Regions from separate parts of the Homo sapiens genome. Here region 2 is linked to region 1. Evidence: fine-mapped expression QTL. Tissue or cell type: whole blood. Region 1 holds a variant in brackets; the other region holds the start of a gene. All regions are shown on one strand. Distances are between the middles of the regions.

Evidence for each region. PIP is the estimated chance that this variant, and not a neighbour inherited with it, causes the effect.
Region 2: TOR3A starts here. The variant in region 1 is fine-mapped to the expression of TOR3A in whole blood (TOPMed, PIP 0.99).

What each region holds. Positions count from the first base shown.
Region 1 is chr1:179,671,458-179,679,562 of GRCh38, forward strand. The region is part of intron 17 of TDRD5 (tudor domain containing 5); the gene reads left to right. Among named protein-coding and RNA genes, the nearest start is that of FAM163A, 68 kb to the right of the region's middle. The variant C/A (reference allele first, on the strand shown) is at 3,472.
Region 2 is chr1:179,077,295-179,085,399 of GRCh38, forward strand. It overlaps TOR3A (torsin family 3 member A), which reads left to right and starts at 4,776. Exons shown (of 6, transcript NM_022371.4): 1 at 4,776-5,093; 2 at 5,646-5,759. The coding sequence starts at 4,835. RefSeq lists silencers at 4,751-5,040, 5,181-5,350, 6,341-6,400.

The DNA of each region.
Region 1 (8,105 bases):
ACATACTACATTTTTTGTTTTGCAACAAAGTTTTCATTAGAATGTAAGTTGTTCAGTTATACTGTACTTCTTATGTATAATTTTCATAAAATATTTTGTAAAAACCTAGGACAAATTATATGATTTTTAAAATTTAAAAAATTTACTTCAATAGGTTTTTGGGGAACAGGTGGTGTTTGGTTACTTGAAAGTTCTTTAGTGATGATTTCTGAGATTTCGGTGCACTCATCACCTGAGTGTATACACTGTACCCAATGTGTAGTTTTTTATCCCTCGAAACCCCCCACCCTTTCTCTTGAGTCCCCAAAGTCCAATGTATCATTTTTATGCCTTTGCGTCCTCATAGCTTAGCTCCCACCTATGACTGAGAACATACGATATTTGGTTTTCCATTCCTGAATTACTTCACTTAGAATAATAGTCTCGAATTCCATCCAGGTTGCTGCATATGCCATTATTTCGTTCCTTTTTATGGCTGAGAAATATTCCATGGTGTGTGTGTGTGTGTGTGTGTGTGTGTGTGTGTGTGTGTGTGTATCACATTTTCTTTATCCACTCATTGATTGATGGGCATTTGAGCTGGTTCCATGTTTTTACCATTACAAATTGTGCTGCTATAAATGTGTGTGCAAGTATCTTTTTCGTATAATGACTTCTTTTCCTCTAGGTAGATACCTAGTAGTGGGATTGCTGGATCAAATGGTAGATCTTAGCTCTTTAAGGAATCTCCACACTGTTTTCCATAGTGGTTGTAATAGTTTATATTCTTACCAATAGCATAAAAGCATTCCCTTTCCACCGCATGCATGCCAACATCTATTATTTTTTTATTTTTTTGATTATGGGTATTCTTGCAGAAGTGAGGTGGTATCACATTGTGGTTTTAATTTGCATTTCCCTGATAATTAGTGATGTTGAGCATTTTTCCATATGCTTGTTGACCATTTGTATATCTTCTTTTGGGAATTGTCTATTCAAGTCCTTTGGGATTGTTTCATTTTTTCTTGCTGAGTTCTTTGTAGATTTTTGGATATTAGTCCTTTGTTGGATGTATAGATTGTGAAGATTTTCTCCCATTCTGTGGGTTGTCTTGTTAACTCTGCTGATTATTTCTTTTGCTGTACAGAAGCTTTTTAGTTTAATTAAGTCCCATTTATTTATGTTTGTTTTTGTTGAATTTGCTTCTGGGTTCTTGATCATGAATTATTTGCCTAAGCCAATGTCTAGAAGGGTTTTTCCAATGTTATACTCTAGAATTTTTAAGGTTTCAGGTCTTAGATTTAAGTCTTTGATCCATCTTGAGTTGATTTTTATATAGGGTGAGAGATGAGGATCTAATTTCATTTTTCTACATGTGGCTTGCCAATTATCCTAGCACCATTTGTTGAATAGGGTGTCCTTTCCCCACTTTATGTTTTTGTTTGCTTTGTCAAAAATCAGTTGGCTGTAAGTATTTGGCTTTGTTTTTGGGTTCCCTATTCTGTTCCATTGGTCTATGTGCCTATCTTTATGCCGGTACCATGCTGTTTTGGTAACTATGGCCTTATAGTATAGTTTGAAGTCAGGTAATGTGATGTCTCCAGATTTGTTCTTTTTGCTTAGTCTTGTTTTGGCTATGTGGGCTCTTTTTTGGTTCCATATGAATTTTAAGATTGTTTTTTCTAGTTCTGTGATGAATGATGGTAGTATTTTGATGGGAATTGATCTGAATTTGTGGATTGCTTTTGGCAGTATGATCATTTTCACAATATTGATTCTACCCATCCACGAGCATGAGATGTGTTTCCATTTGTTTGTGTCATCTATGATTTCTTTCAGCAGTGTTTTGTTTTTCTCCATATAGAAGTCTTTCACGTCTTGGTTAGCTATATTCCTAAGTATTCTATTTTTATTGCAGCTATTGTGAAAGGGGTTGAGTTTGTGAACTCAGAAAATCTGAGACAGGTCTCAGTTAATTTAGAAAATTTATTTTGCCAAGGTTGAGGATGTGCCTGTGACAGAGCCTCAAGAAGTCCTGATGACATGTGCCCAAGGTGGTCAGGGCACAGCTTGGTTTTATACATTTAGGGAGACATGAGACATCAATCAATATATGTAAGAAGTGCATTGGTTCGGTCTGGAAGATGGAACAACTTGAAGCAAAGGCAAGAAGCAGGGAGGGAGCTTCCAGGTCACAGATGGGTGATTCACAAATGGTTACATTCTTTTGAGTTTCTGATTAGCCTTTCCAAAGGAGGCAAATCAGATATGCATCTATCTCAGTGGGCAGAGGAGTGACTTTGAGTAGAATGGGAGGCAGGTTTGCCCTAAGCAGTTTCCAGCTTGAGTTTTCCTTAGTGATTTTGGGGGTGCAAGATATTTTCCTTTCACAAGTTCTTGATTTGATTCTCAGCTTGGTCACTGTTGATGTATAGCAGAGCTACTGATTGTGTACATTAATTTTGTATCCTGAAACTTTGCTGAATTCATTTACCAGTTCTAGGAGCTTTTTGGATGAGTCGTTAGGGTTTTCTAGGTATACAATCATATCAGCAAACAGTGACAGTTTGACTTCCTCTTTACCGATTTGGGTGCCCTTTATTTCTTTCTCTTGTCTGATTGCTCTGGCTAGGACTTCCAGTACCATGTTGAATAGAAGTGGTGAAAGTGGGCATCCTTGTCTGTTCCATTTCTCAGGGGGAATGCTTTCAACTTTTCCCCATTCAGTGTAATGTTGGCTGTGAGTTTGTCATAGATGGATTTTATTACCTTAAGGTATGTCCCTATATGCCGATTTTGCTGAGGGTTTAATCATAAAGGGATGCTGGATTTTGTCAAATGCTTTTTCTGCATCTATTGAGGTGATCAAGTGATTTTTGTTTTTAATTCTATTTATGTGGTGTATCACATTTATTGACTTATGTTAAACCATCCCTGCATCCCTGGTATGAAACCCCTCTGACCATGGTGGATTATCTTTTCAGTATGTTACTGGATTCAGTTCACTAGTATTTTGTTGAGGATTTTTGCATCTGTGTTCATCAGGGATATTGGTCTGTAGTTTTTTTTTGTTGTTGTTATGTCCTTTCCCGGTTTTGGTATTAGGGTGATACTGGCTTCACAGAATGATTTAGAGAGGATTTCCTCTTTATCTTTTGGAATACTGTCAATAGGATTGGTACCAATTCTTCTTTAAATGTGTGATAGAATTCAGCTGTGAATCCATCTGGTCCTGGACTTTTTTTGTTGACAGTTTTTTTTATTACCATTTCAATCTCACTGCTTGTTATTGGTCTGATCAGAGATTCTGTATCATCCTGGTTTAATCTAGGACAGTTGTATATTTCCAGAAATTTATCCATCTCTTCTAGGTTTTCTAGTTTACGTTTGTAAAGGTGTTAAAAGTAGCCTTGAATAATCTTTTGTGTTTCTGTGGTATCAGTTGTAACATCTCCCATTTCATTTCTAATTGAGTTTATTTGGATCCTCTCT[C/A]TTCTTTTCTTAGTTAATCTCACTAATGGTCTTTCAATTTTTATCTTTTCAAAGAACCAACTTTTTGTTTCACTTATCTTTTGTACCTTTTATTGTTTCAATTTCATTTAGTTCTCCTCTGATCCTGGTTATTTCCTTTCTTCTGCTGAGTTTGGGTTTGGATTGTCATTGTTTCTCCAATTCTGTGAGGTATAACCTTAGATTGTTTATTTGTGCTCTTATAGACTTTTTGATATAGGCATTTAATGCTATGAACTTTCCTCTAAGCACCACTTCTGCTGTATTCCAGAGGTTTTGATAGATTGTATCATTCAGTTCAAAGAATTTTTATTATTATTATTATTATTTTTTTTTTTTTTTTTTTTTTTTGAGACGGAGTCTCACTCTTTCGCCCAAGCTGGACTGCAGTGGCGCTATCCCGGCTCACTGCAAGCTCCGCCTCTTGGGTTCATGCCATTCTCCTGCCTCAGCCTCCCGAGTAGCTGGGATTACAGGCGCCCACCACCACGCCCGGCTAATTTTTTGTATTTTTAGTAGAGACGGGGTTTCACCGTGTTAGCCAGGATGGTCTCGATCTCCTGACCTCGTGATCCGCCCGCCTCGGCCTCCCAAAGTGCTGGGATTACAGGCGTGAGCCACCGCGCCCGGCCCTCAAAGAATTTTTAAATCCCCATCTAGATTTCATTGTTGACCCAATGATCATTCAGGAGCAGGTTATTTAATTTCCATCTATTTGCATGGTTTTGAGTGTTCCTCTTGGAGTTGATACCCAATTTTATTCTACTATGGTCTGAGAGAGTACTTGATATAACTTCAATTTCCTTAAATTTACTGAGGCTTGTTTTGTGGCCTATCATGTGGTCTAAGAGAATGTTCCATGTGTTGATGAATAGAATATATATTCTGCATTTTGTGGGGTAGAATGTTCTATAAATATCTGTTAAATCCATTTGTTGTAGGGTATAGTTTAAGTCCACTGTTTCTTTGTTGACTTTCTGTCTAGTGCTGTCAGTCGAGTATTAAAGTCCCCCACTGCTATTGTGTTGCCGTCGATATCTCATTTCTTAGGTCTAGTAGTAATTGTTTTATAAATTTGGGAGCTCCAGTGTTAGGTGCATGTATATTTAGAATTGCTATGTTTTCCTGTTGGACTAGTCCTTTTATCATTATATAATGTCCCTCTTTGTCTTTTTTAACTGCAGCTGCTTTAAAGTTTATTTTGTCTGATATAAGAATAGCTACTCCTGCTAGCTTTTGGTGTTCATTTGCATGGAATATCTTTTTCCATCTCTTTACCTTAAGTTTCTGTGAGTCCTTATGTGTTAGGCAAGTCTCCTGAAGGCAGCAGAAACTTGGTTGGTGAATTCTTATCCATTCTGCAGTTCTGTATCTTTTAAGTGGAGCATTGAGGCCATTTACATTCAATGTTAGTATTGAGATGTGAGGTACTATTCTATTCATCATGCTATTTGTTGCCTGAATACCTTGTTTTTTTCATTGTGTTATTGTTACGTAGGTCCTGTGAGATTTATGCTTTAAAGGAAGTTCTATTTTGGTGTATTTTGAGGATGTGTTTCAAGATTTAGTGCTCCTTTAGCAGTTCCTGTGCTGTCTTGGTAGTGGCGAAGTCTCTCAGCATTTGTTTGTTTGGAAAAGACTATCTTTCCTTCATTTATGAAGCTTAGTTTTGCTGGCTACAAAATTCTTGGCTAATAATTGTTTTGTTTAAGGAGGCTAGAAATAGGACCCCAGTCCCTTCTAGCTTATAGATTTCTGCTGAGAAATCTGCTGTTAATCTGATAGATTTTCCTTTGTAGGTTACCTGATGCTTTTGCCTCACAGCTCTTAAGAGTCTTTCCTTGGTCTTGACTTTAAATAACTTGATGACTGTATGCCTAGGCAGTTATCTTTTTGCAATGAATTTCCCAGGTGTTCTTTGAGCTGCTTGTATTTGGATATCTAGATCTCTAGCAAGACCAGGGAAGTTTTCCTTGATTATTCCCTCAAATATGTTTTCCATACTTTTAGATTTCTCTTCTTCTTCAGGAACACCAGCTATTCTTAGGTTTGGATGTTTAACCTAGTCCCAAACTTCTTGGAGGCGTTGTTCATTTTTTTAAATTATTTTTTCTTTGTGTTTGATGGATCAGGTTAATTCAAAAGCCTTGTCTTTGAGCTCTGAAGTTCTTTCTTCTGCTTGTTCGATTCTATTGCTGAGCCTTTCCAGTGCATTTTGCATTTCTCTAAGTGTGTCCTTGATTTCCAGAAGTTGTGATTGTTTTTTATTAATGCTTTCTATTTCACTGAAGAATTTTTCTTTCATATCCTGTATCATGTTTTTGATTTCTTTAAGCTGGACTTCACCTTTCTCTGGTGCCTCCTTGATTAGCTTGATAATCAACCTTCTGAAATCTTTTTCTGGCAATTCAGAGATTTCATCTTGGTTTGAATCCATTGCTGGTGAGCTGGTGTGATCTTTTAGGGGTGTTAAAGAACCTTATTTTGTCATATTACCAGAATGATTTTTCTGGTTCCTTCTTATTTGAGTAGAGTATATAAGAGGGGAGATCTGGGATTCAAGGGCTGCTGTTCAGATTCTTTTGTCCCACGGGATGCTCCCTTGATGTGGTGTTCTCTTCTTTCCCCTAGGATTGGGGCTTCCTGAGAACTGAACTGTGGTGATTGTTTTTGCTCTTCTGGGTTTAGCCAGTAAGTGGAGCTACTGGGCTCTGGGCTGGTACTGGGGAGAGTCTGCAAAGAGTCTTGTGATGTGATCCATCTTCAGGTCTTGCAGCCATAGATACCAGCACCTGCTCTGGTGGAGGTAGCAGGGAAGTGAAGTGGACTCTTTGAGGGTCCTTGGTTGTGTTTTTGTTTAGTACACTGGCTTTGTGTTGGTTGACCTCCAGCCAGGAGGTGGTGCTTTCAAAAGTACATCAGCTGTGGCCCTATAGGGAGGATGCAAACTTGCCCTAGGCATACCTGGTTAAGTACTCAGGTTTCTCAGGCAGTGAGCAGGGCCATAGAGCTCCCAAGAGATTATGACCTTTGTCTTTGGCTACCAAGACAGGTAGAGAAAGATCACCAACCAGGTGGGGGCAGGGACAGGTGTGTCTGAGCTTAGCCCCTCCTTGGGAAGGGCTTGCTGCGGCTGCTATGGGGGTGGGGGTGTGGTTCCCAGTCCAGTGGAATTACACCCCCAGGGGGATTATGGCTGCCTCTGCTGAGTCATACAGGTTGCCAGGGAAGTGGGGGAAAGCCGGCAGTCACGGGCCTCACTCCGCTCCCAGGGTAGCTTGCAGTTCTAAAGGCTAGTCTCACTCCCACCGTGGCTCCCTCAACAGCACCGAGTCTATTTCTAGGCAGCTGGTGACCAGGGCTGAGAATTTGCCCCAGACCATGAGCCTCCCCGTTGAGAAAGCAAGCAGACTCACAGTTTTTCAGCATCTCAGGGAAACTTCAGGGGTGATCCAGTTTCTTCAAAGGGTCTGTGGATCCTCTCAGCTTTCCCTATTTGCTCCAAGAACTACCACAGGAACATAAGTTCATGATGTGAGTCTCCACATGCCACTTTGTCCGTCCAGGCAGGAGCTATAGAGTAGTCCTGCCTCCTATCCGCCATCTTAATCGACTATATTTAAACATTTATTCTTCTTTAATTTCTAGCAATGATATTTTGTAGTTTTCAGGTGCATAGGTGTTTTTCATCTTTTGTTAAATTTATCCCTAAGTAATATTTTTATACTGTTGAATAAATGGCATTTTAAATTCAATTTTTTTTATTACTGGTATATAGAAATATAGTTGGTTTTCATATATTCCGTGACCTTGCTAAACTCATTTGTTCTAATAGCTCTTTTGGGATTTTCTGTATAGACATTTCATATGTGGGGGAAAAAAATCAGTTTACTACTTGTGAAATTGTTTGCCATTTTTCCTTTTCCTTGTACTGGTTAGGACTTCCATTATAGAGTTGAATAGGAGAGGCCAGAGTGACATCCTTGCATTGTTGTTGATCTTATAGGAAGCATTTTATCTTATTACAAATAAAGTGTAATGTTAGCTGTAGCCTTTTTGTAGATGCTGTTGGTAGGCTAAGAAAGTTCCAATTTATTCCTAGATTTCTGATAGTTTTTATTATGAATCGGTGTTGAATCTTATCAAATGCTTATTCTGCGTCTATTGAGATGGTTATGCTGTTGCTTGTTTTAATTGACTGTTTATGGGATGGTGAATTATATCGATTTTCAAATATTAAACCAACCTTACATTCCTGGGATAATGCCCTCGTGGTCATGATATACTATCCATTTTATAGAATGTTAGACTCTATTTGTTAAAATATTGTTAAGGATTTTTATGGCCATGTTCATGAGGGATATTTGTCTATAGTTTTCTTTTTTTATAATGTCTTTGTCTGGTTTTGGTATCCAGATAATGATGCTGTCATAAAATAAGTTGGGAAGTGTTTCCTCCTCTTCTATTAATATTGTCTGGAAGAATTTGTGTGGAATTGATATTATTTCTTCCTTAAATGTTTGGTAGAATTCAATAATGAGGACCTCTGGACCTAGAGTTTTCTTTGAAGGAAGGTATTTTAAGCTAATGTCTTTAATAGATACAAGGTTATTGAT
Region 2 (8,105 bases), 590 kb before region 1:
TCAAAAAAAGAAAAAAAAAAAATAGCTGGGTGTGGTGGCAGGCGCCTGTAATCCCGGCTACTCGGAGGCTGAGGCAGGAAAATTGCTTGAACCCAGCAGGCGGAGGTTGCAATGAGCCGAGATCGTGCCATTGCACTCCAGCCTGGGCAACGAGCGAAACTCTGTCTCAAAAAACAAAACAAAACTATTTTATTTGCAGCATATTTGTGCTAGTTTTTGTCATTTGTACATGAATACATGTGGGAGGCTAGTAGAGCCTGGTCTGTGTATCTCACTGACTCACCACATACAAATTCTTTTCCAGGCTAGAGTTCAGGATTCATTTGCTTCTCAAGCATATCAGAACGACTGGTATTAGAGTTTGAAAAAGGTAGCTGGGAGTAGGGAGGGCGGGGCTCTGTTACTGGGTAATTTTACCTAGTATGTTTGCTTATTAGACTGATTTTTAGCAGTCGTCATTTTGTAAAATAGATAGGAATGGTCATAGCCACTGGATTTCCATGGGTAGGGTTTTGTAAGGTAAGTTGCAGTATAAGCCCCAAGGAATAATGGTATTAAATCACAATTTGTGAGATATTTGGTCTGTCATCAGTAGATCTGTGGGCCATTGTGCTGCAAGCTGTGGTATACCATTGAGATGATAGTGACTGTCTTTTCCCTCAAAGAGCCTGCAGTCTAGACCTGGCAGAAAAAAAAAAAAAAAAACTGCTTGTGAGGCACCAAGTCCCTCAGGAATTATATAAATTAATTGCAGTGAGAATAAGAAACGGGAGAGGATCATGGAGGTGGGGATTGGGAGGGATTGGGTTAGGCAGTACCTACATTGAAAAAGTGGAGATTGATCCAGGCTTGACGAGAGGTGTGTATAGAACCCCTGACTCCGGAAATGCAGAACTATTTGCTTAGTGGATACAGGGCCTTCTGGGCCTGTATTTTCAGTATCTGGGTCACCAGAAATATCGCTTCAGGGGTTTCTCATTGTTCTAGGAAATGTTTGTGTGCCCTGTCTCTTGAGGACATTCTCAGTCCACCTCAAGTGCTGTGTAGATGTTAAAGGAACATAGATGAGCTGGGAAACATTCCTGTAATGTTTCTCATGCAGGGTTATTTAAATATGGAGACTTGCGTTTGTTTTGTTTTTGAGACCAAATCTCACTGCAGTGCCCAGGCTGGAGTGCAATGGCGCGATCTTAGCTCACTGCAACCTCCGCTTCCCAGGTTCAAGCAATTCGCCTGCCTCAGCCTCCCGAGTAGCCAGGACTACAGGCGCATGCCACCACGCCCGGCTAATTTTTGTATTTTTAGTAGAGACGGGGTTTCTCCATATTGGCCGGGCTGATTGGTCTCAAACACTTGACCTCAAGTGATCCACCTGCCTTGGCCTCCCAAAGTGCTGGGATTACAGGCGTGAGCCACCGTCCCAGGCCGAGACTTGCTTTTGACCCAGTGTTTCCAAGGCAGATGGTTCTGATTGCCTTCAGTGGGGTTGGGAAGATGTCTGTTGTAAAGCTAGGTCATACTCAGATGACATCAATAAAGGTGTTGTGTGCCAATTTTGCCTTAGGCTTTTTTTTTTTTTTTTGGATTGACAGTCTTGCTTTGACGCAGGCTGGAGTACAATGGCACAATCATCGCTCATTGGCAGCCTCGAACTCCTGAGCTCAAGTGATCCTCCTCCCTCAGCCTCTCAAGTAGCTAGGATTATAGGCGCGCACCACCACACGCAGCTTATTTTTTATTTTTATTTTTGGTAGAGACAAGGGGTCTAGCCTTATTGCCCAGGCTGGTCTGAAACTCTGGCTTCAAGCCACCCTCCTGCCTCAGCCTCCCAAAGTGCTGGGATTACAGGCATGAGCCATGGCTCCCTGCACAGAAAGACCTTCTTAAAGTGCAGGTTTTGATTCAGTATGTCTGGGGCCTGAGATTCTGCATTTCTAACAAGCTCCTGGGTGATGCCAGTGGTGGGGTTCTGGAACCGCCCTTGAGTAGCACCGTAATGCTTGCTAAAGAATCATAGTTGTCTGTAGTTTTCCCAGCAGCCTCTAGATGTCCCCGTCATCCATGAGATACTGCTTCCAGAACTTTAAAACGAGCACAGCCTCCAAGGCCTGAGACGGAAAGGAGTATTTATTGAAATACTCAAGAGACGTATCTAGAAACTGGTGTTTGGATTTATTGTTTCTACACGGGACTGACTCTTTGGTGAAAAAGTGTTTACCTCTTTTTTTTTTTTTTTTGGAAAAAAACGGCCAGGCGCAGTGGCTCACGCCTGTAATCCCAACACTTTGGGAGGCTAAGGCAGGCAGGCAGATCACCTGAGGCCAGGAGTTCGAGACCAGCCTGGCCAACATGGCGAAACCCCGTCTCTACTAAAAATACAAAAAAAAAAAAAAAGCGGGGGCGTGGTGGTGAACGCCTGTAATCCCAGCTACTTGGGAGGCTGAGGGGGAAGAATCGCTTGAACCGGGGAGGCGGAGGTTGCAGTGAGCCGAGATTGCACCACTGCACTCCAGCCTGGGCGACAGAGCAAGACTCCGTCTCTAAATAAATAAATAAATAAATAAATAAATAATAAAAATGTCTTGAAATCAAGTTGGTTGTCGAAGAACTTCCCAGCTAACCTACTTTATTTACAATGGGATGCTAAATCCAAGTCAGAACATCTCAGAAATGAGCAGGTAGCCCTACATAAAAGTTCCAAGTACAGATAATTCTTTCCACAACATCTTAAAACTTGGATTGTTTTAATAAACTATTGTTACTATTAATTTTTTCACCATAAATTCACTTATAAACCACCAGTATTAACTAAAGCCATCCTTGCCTCCTGTGTAGACCACCCAGAGCCTCCTCCATGGCTGGGTAGATACAAAAATAAAACTGGCCACGTATTGAGTGTTGATGATGTGCTCATTGAATGAGCTCATTTAATCTTCACAGCAGCCCTATGAGGGGACTATTTTATTATCCCTTTTTATAGGTGAGGAAACAGGCATGGGACGGTTCAGTAACATCCATGGTTGCACAAATAGAAAATGGTAATCACTATATTAGACTGCCATTCAGACTCAAACGACATTTGTTGAGTGAGTTAATTTTTTTTCTTTTCTCTTTTTTCTTTTTTTTTTTTTTTTGAGATGGAGCCCTGCTCTGTCACCCAGGCTGGAGTGCAGTGGTACCATCTTGGCTCACTGCAACCTCTGCCCCCTGGGTTCAAGCCATTCTCCTGCCTCAGCCTCCTGAGTAGCTGGGATTACAGATGCGCACCATCACACTCAGCTAATTTTTGGATTTTTAGTAGAGACTGGGTTTCACCATGTTGGCCAGGCTGGTCTCGAACTCCTGATCTCAGGTGATCCGCCCGCCTCGGCCTTCTAAAGTGCTAGGATTACAGGCGTGAGCCACCACACCCTGCCTAATTTTTTTTGGTTTTCCAATAAGCACTGTGGTGTATGTGCTGTTAACTGTCTCCGGTGGACTCCGCAAGCTCGATGTACACAGTGCTGGGCTGGTGCCATGGCTGCTACTCTATGAAAAGTTTTTGACATCACACTGAATGGCTGAGACACTATAAACATTTTACTTTTCAACTCAACCTCGTGTCCTAGCAAAGGTGCTTTATCTAGTTTCTGTAGCTGTTCGAATGAAAGGCACAAATTTGGTGAGCTGCTGAGAATGGAGCAGACCTGGCACGGTGTGATCTAAGAGACTGGGGTGAACAGATGAATCAAGTTGCCTGTGACATTTGTGAGACACGGTGCTAGTATTCACCTTACTGTCTGGAGGGCCCAACCTCAAAGCCACTAAACATATGACATTAGCCAAGTCCTCTGATCTCTCTAGACAGCAGTTTTCTCCTAAGACAAGACGGCTTTTTGGCTTGGCTGAAGTAAGCCAGGTGATTTTAAACAATGCATTAAGCTCTTCTGAAATCTAACAGCCTTGTTCCATGCTCCTCGCTATGGAGAAGAGAGCGCTGAGGGAAAGAGGCCCTGTAGTCTTTTGCCAATGGTGTCGGATGGGCTGCTCAGTCCCAGCACTTGAAAGTTGCAAACCTAGTCAAGAAAGTGCACACAGTACTTCGGATTTTTATGAGATATAATTACATTGACATGACGCCTCATGATTTACCCATGACTCGGGGGGTTTCCAAACTCCAAACACCTCCAGACTGGAGCCCGTCAATCAGCTTCCTCTTGCTTTTCGTGGACTCCCACTGTGGAAACCTGCTGGTGTTTTGCTGCGGTTTCATTTCCCTCTGCGGAGGAGCCAGGGCAACCTTGGCCAGACAGGCACCTAGCTGTGCCCTTCTTTCCAGGGCCTCTTCTCCACTCAGCTGACTCCCCTGGCCTGCCTAACGCTCCTGACTGAGACGGTTTTCCGGCTTCCTCTAACAGGTTGGCGGGAAGTTGATCTGCAAACGCGAGGCAAAGCAGGAGTGTCCTTATTCGGTAGGCCTCTGATGGGCCACCAGAGCCGTCCGAAAGTCCTAGCGGAGTGATTGACAGTGGCCATTTCAAAGCCTGAGTTCACCTTCTTTGCAACCACAATCACGACCCAGAATAAACTGCTTCCTGGAAGCCGGCTAGTTGCACCTGGCCTGAAGTCAGTCTCGGGACTGCCTCTCAGGACCCCAGACAGGGTTTCGGGTTCCCGCCTGGGTCACGTGTACGGAGGCTGCCAGTGCGCACTCAGCCCGGCCCGCCGGTCGCCACAGCAACACCAATCCCGGGTTCAAGCCCGCCTAGGAAGTGCGGTCCCCGCCTGACCGCCCCGGGCTTAAGGGAGCCTGGCTAGGCCGGCAGCCGGATGGTCCCGCAGCTCGGGGCCGGCCATGCTTCGCGGTCCGTGGCGCCAGCTTTGGCTCTTTTTCCTGCTGCTGCTCCCGGGCGCGCCTGAGCCCCGCGGCGCCTCCAGGCCGTGGGAGGGAACCGACGAGCCGGGCTCGGCCTGGGCCTGGCCGGGCTTCCAGCGCCTGCAGGAGCAGCTCAGGGCGGCGGGTGCCCTCTCCAAGCGGTACTGGACGCTCTTCAGCTGCCAGGTGTGGCCCGACGACTGTGACGAGGACGAGGAGGCAGCCACGGGGCCCCTGGGTAAGACCCCGTCCCCACGGTCCGCCGTTCGCTGCGGAGCAGAGTGCGATCCGGGCGCGGCTGTGGTCGCCTCGCTCCTGTCCGGGGCGACATCTGGGCCCGCAGTCCTGCTCTGCTCAGCCGCCGGTACCGGCTGTGGGCGGGGGCAGCCTCCGCGGAGCAGGGAGCCCCATCACCGCCCTTGCCCCACCCGCGTCCCCTGCGCACCCCCCTGGCGCCCGGCTTCCCGTCCCCCGCCTCCCCTGATCCCTGCGCTTTCCAGATTCTCTCGCACCGCCTGTGCCATCTCCCAGCCCACCCTGGCGTTATTCGAAGGTGTTGCTCTTGACAGCTCTAGGGAACGTCCGCTGTGGACATGCCTGGTGACTGCCGTCTCCCTTGCTGCTTTTGGACGCAGGGCTTGAGGACCGACAGTGGGCCGAGTCGGGGCTGGGAGTTAGAATCTGAGTTCTGGGTGTCCCTCTGTCCCTGACAAGTTGTGTGGCAAGGTTGCCGCATCACTGTAGAGCACCGGATGGTCTCCTCTCGGTCTCACAGCTCCTCCTTTTCCAGGCTGGCGCCTTCCTCTGTTGGGCCAGCGGTACCTGGACCTCCTGACCACGTGGTACTGCAGCTTCAAAGACTGCTGCCCTAGAGGGGATTGCAGAATCTCCAACAACTTTACAGGTTGGACCCCGCATGGCTTCAAGGGGCTAGGGATCTGTGGGGAGGGGAGGCAGTCCAGGGGAAATGGTTAGATGCAAGGGACCTTTCGTCATCCTGCCCAGCCTCCCGACAAGCAGGAACTGCCACAGTCTGACTGAAGTTTTGAGGGAGTACCAAATGCTTGAGTCAGGGAAGCCCCTTTTTAGCCTCTAGCTTAATAGCCCAGGCAAACTGAGCTGTTTGTCAGGCCCAGAGCACCTTGTTTCACTCTAAACAGAAACAGCTACCTCTCAGAGGGGGCTGGAACTATCCAGAGAGAACTGATCAGAAATTCTGGGTTGTGATTAAAAGTGTCCCTTTCTTTTCTTTTTTTTTTTTGAGACGGAGGCTTGCTCTGTCACCCACACTGGAGTGCAGTGGTGCGATCTCAGCTCACTGCACCCTCCGCCTCCTGGGTTCAAGCAATTTTCCTGCCTCAGCCTCCCGAGTAGCTGGGATTACAGGTGCCTGCCACCACGTCCGGCTAATTTCTGTATTTTTAGTAGAGGCGGGGGGGGGGGGGGGGGGCGGGTTTCACCATGTTGGCCAGGCCGGTCTCGAACTCCTGACCTTGTGATTTGCCTGCCTTGGCCTCCAAGAGTGCTGTGATTACAGGCGTGAGCCACTGTGCCATGGCAACCAGTATTTTCTAATTAGTTTGGGTTGCTTGATTTGCATATCGCAGTTGATTTGCATTTTCACTCTCACAAGGTGATCTTTGGCCCCATGTTCTGAAACCTGTTCAGACATTTGCAAAAGCTTCCTCTCTTTTCCCCAGGAGCAATTTCTTGCCCAGAGTTCTCCTGATCCCAGGTCCTTCAATCTCCATAAATGAGGCCCACCCCAGATATTTAGGTCACTTAATTGGCCAAAATGCCAATAACACAGTGTGTTTAGGGACACAGTCTGGCTCAGGACAGAAGATAGGACTACATACAGGTCAGGAAGTCTTAATTTGGATCACTGCTGACTTGGATAAGACCCTAGGTAGCAATTAGCAAGTTACTTTCTGTCCTCAACATGCCTTTTGTTCGACAAGGGCCTGGATATCCAAATTGTTCTGGCCAGCGGATTGGAGACCCCTCCTAGTCGTGCCTCTTCCTTGCTGGCAAACTGAAGAGTCCTTCCCAAGTGTCCGTTTCCTCAGCTGTATTTTATTTTATTTTTTTTACTTATTTATTTTGAGACCAAGTCAGTCTCTGTCACCTAGGCTGGAGCAATCTCGTCTCACTGCAAACTCTGCCTCCCAGGTTCAAGCGATTCTCTTCCCTCAGCCTCCCGAGTGGCTGGGATTATAGGTGCCCACCACCATGCCCAGCTAATTTTTGTATTTTTAGTAGAGAGGGGGTTCACCATGTTGGCTAGGCTGGTCTCGAACTCCTGACCTCGTGATCCGCCCGCCTCAGCCTCCCCAAGTGCTGGGATTACAGGCGGGAACCACCTCGCCCAGCCAGTTTCCTCAGCTTTAAATGGGAATAATAATGCCTGCCTTGCAGAATTGTGAAGACCAAATGTAAAACACTTAGCCCAGTTCTGAATACAGAGAAAAAAGCAGCAAATGTTAATTTTCTTCTATGTCACTACTACTTTTGGAGCAATGTGTGATGCCCTCAATGTTTTATCATAGACCTTGACCTCCCAAGGCTCCAGAATACCTGCTCTGGGCTGGCTTAAGGTGTTCAACCAATTGATCCTGGATTTGGAATGCTCACCCACAGCTGGCCGCACACCCTGCCTGTCTGCACTGTGGCTCCTGGTAGCGCCATCTCCAAATCCTACAACCTCACGTCTGACAGGAGGAAGTTAGACCTAGCAGAAGGCTTTGCACACTGGAGCTGCTCTCACCAAGTGTTGGCTGAATTGAATGAGAATGAATAAAATCAGGCTTCTCCATAAAACAGGGAGCCCTGAAACCAAGGGATGGGAGCAGCCTCAGGACATGGGGGACAGGGTTCCTCCCTAGACAGGTCTGTGCCAACTGTTCTGGGTATCTGCAGGATCTTTAGGAAGGGTGATTCCACTCTCCCTGAGTCCCATCTTGATTTCCCAAACTCTTCAAAAAGTAGTCCTTGAGGCTGGGCGCAATGGCTCACGCCTGTAATCCCAGCACTTTGGGAGGCCGAGGTGGGCGGATCTCGAGGTCAGGAGTTCAAGACCAGCCTAGCCAACCTGGTGAAACCCGTCTCTACTAAAAATACAAAAATTAGCTGGGTATGGTGGTGGGCACCTGTAATCCCAGCCACTCGGGAGGCTGAGGCAGGAGAATCGCTTGAACCAGGGAGGCGGAGGTTGCAGTGAGCTGAGATTGCGCCACTGCACTCCAGCCTG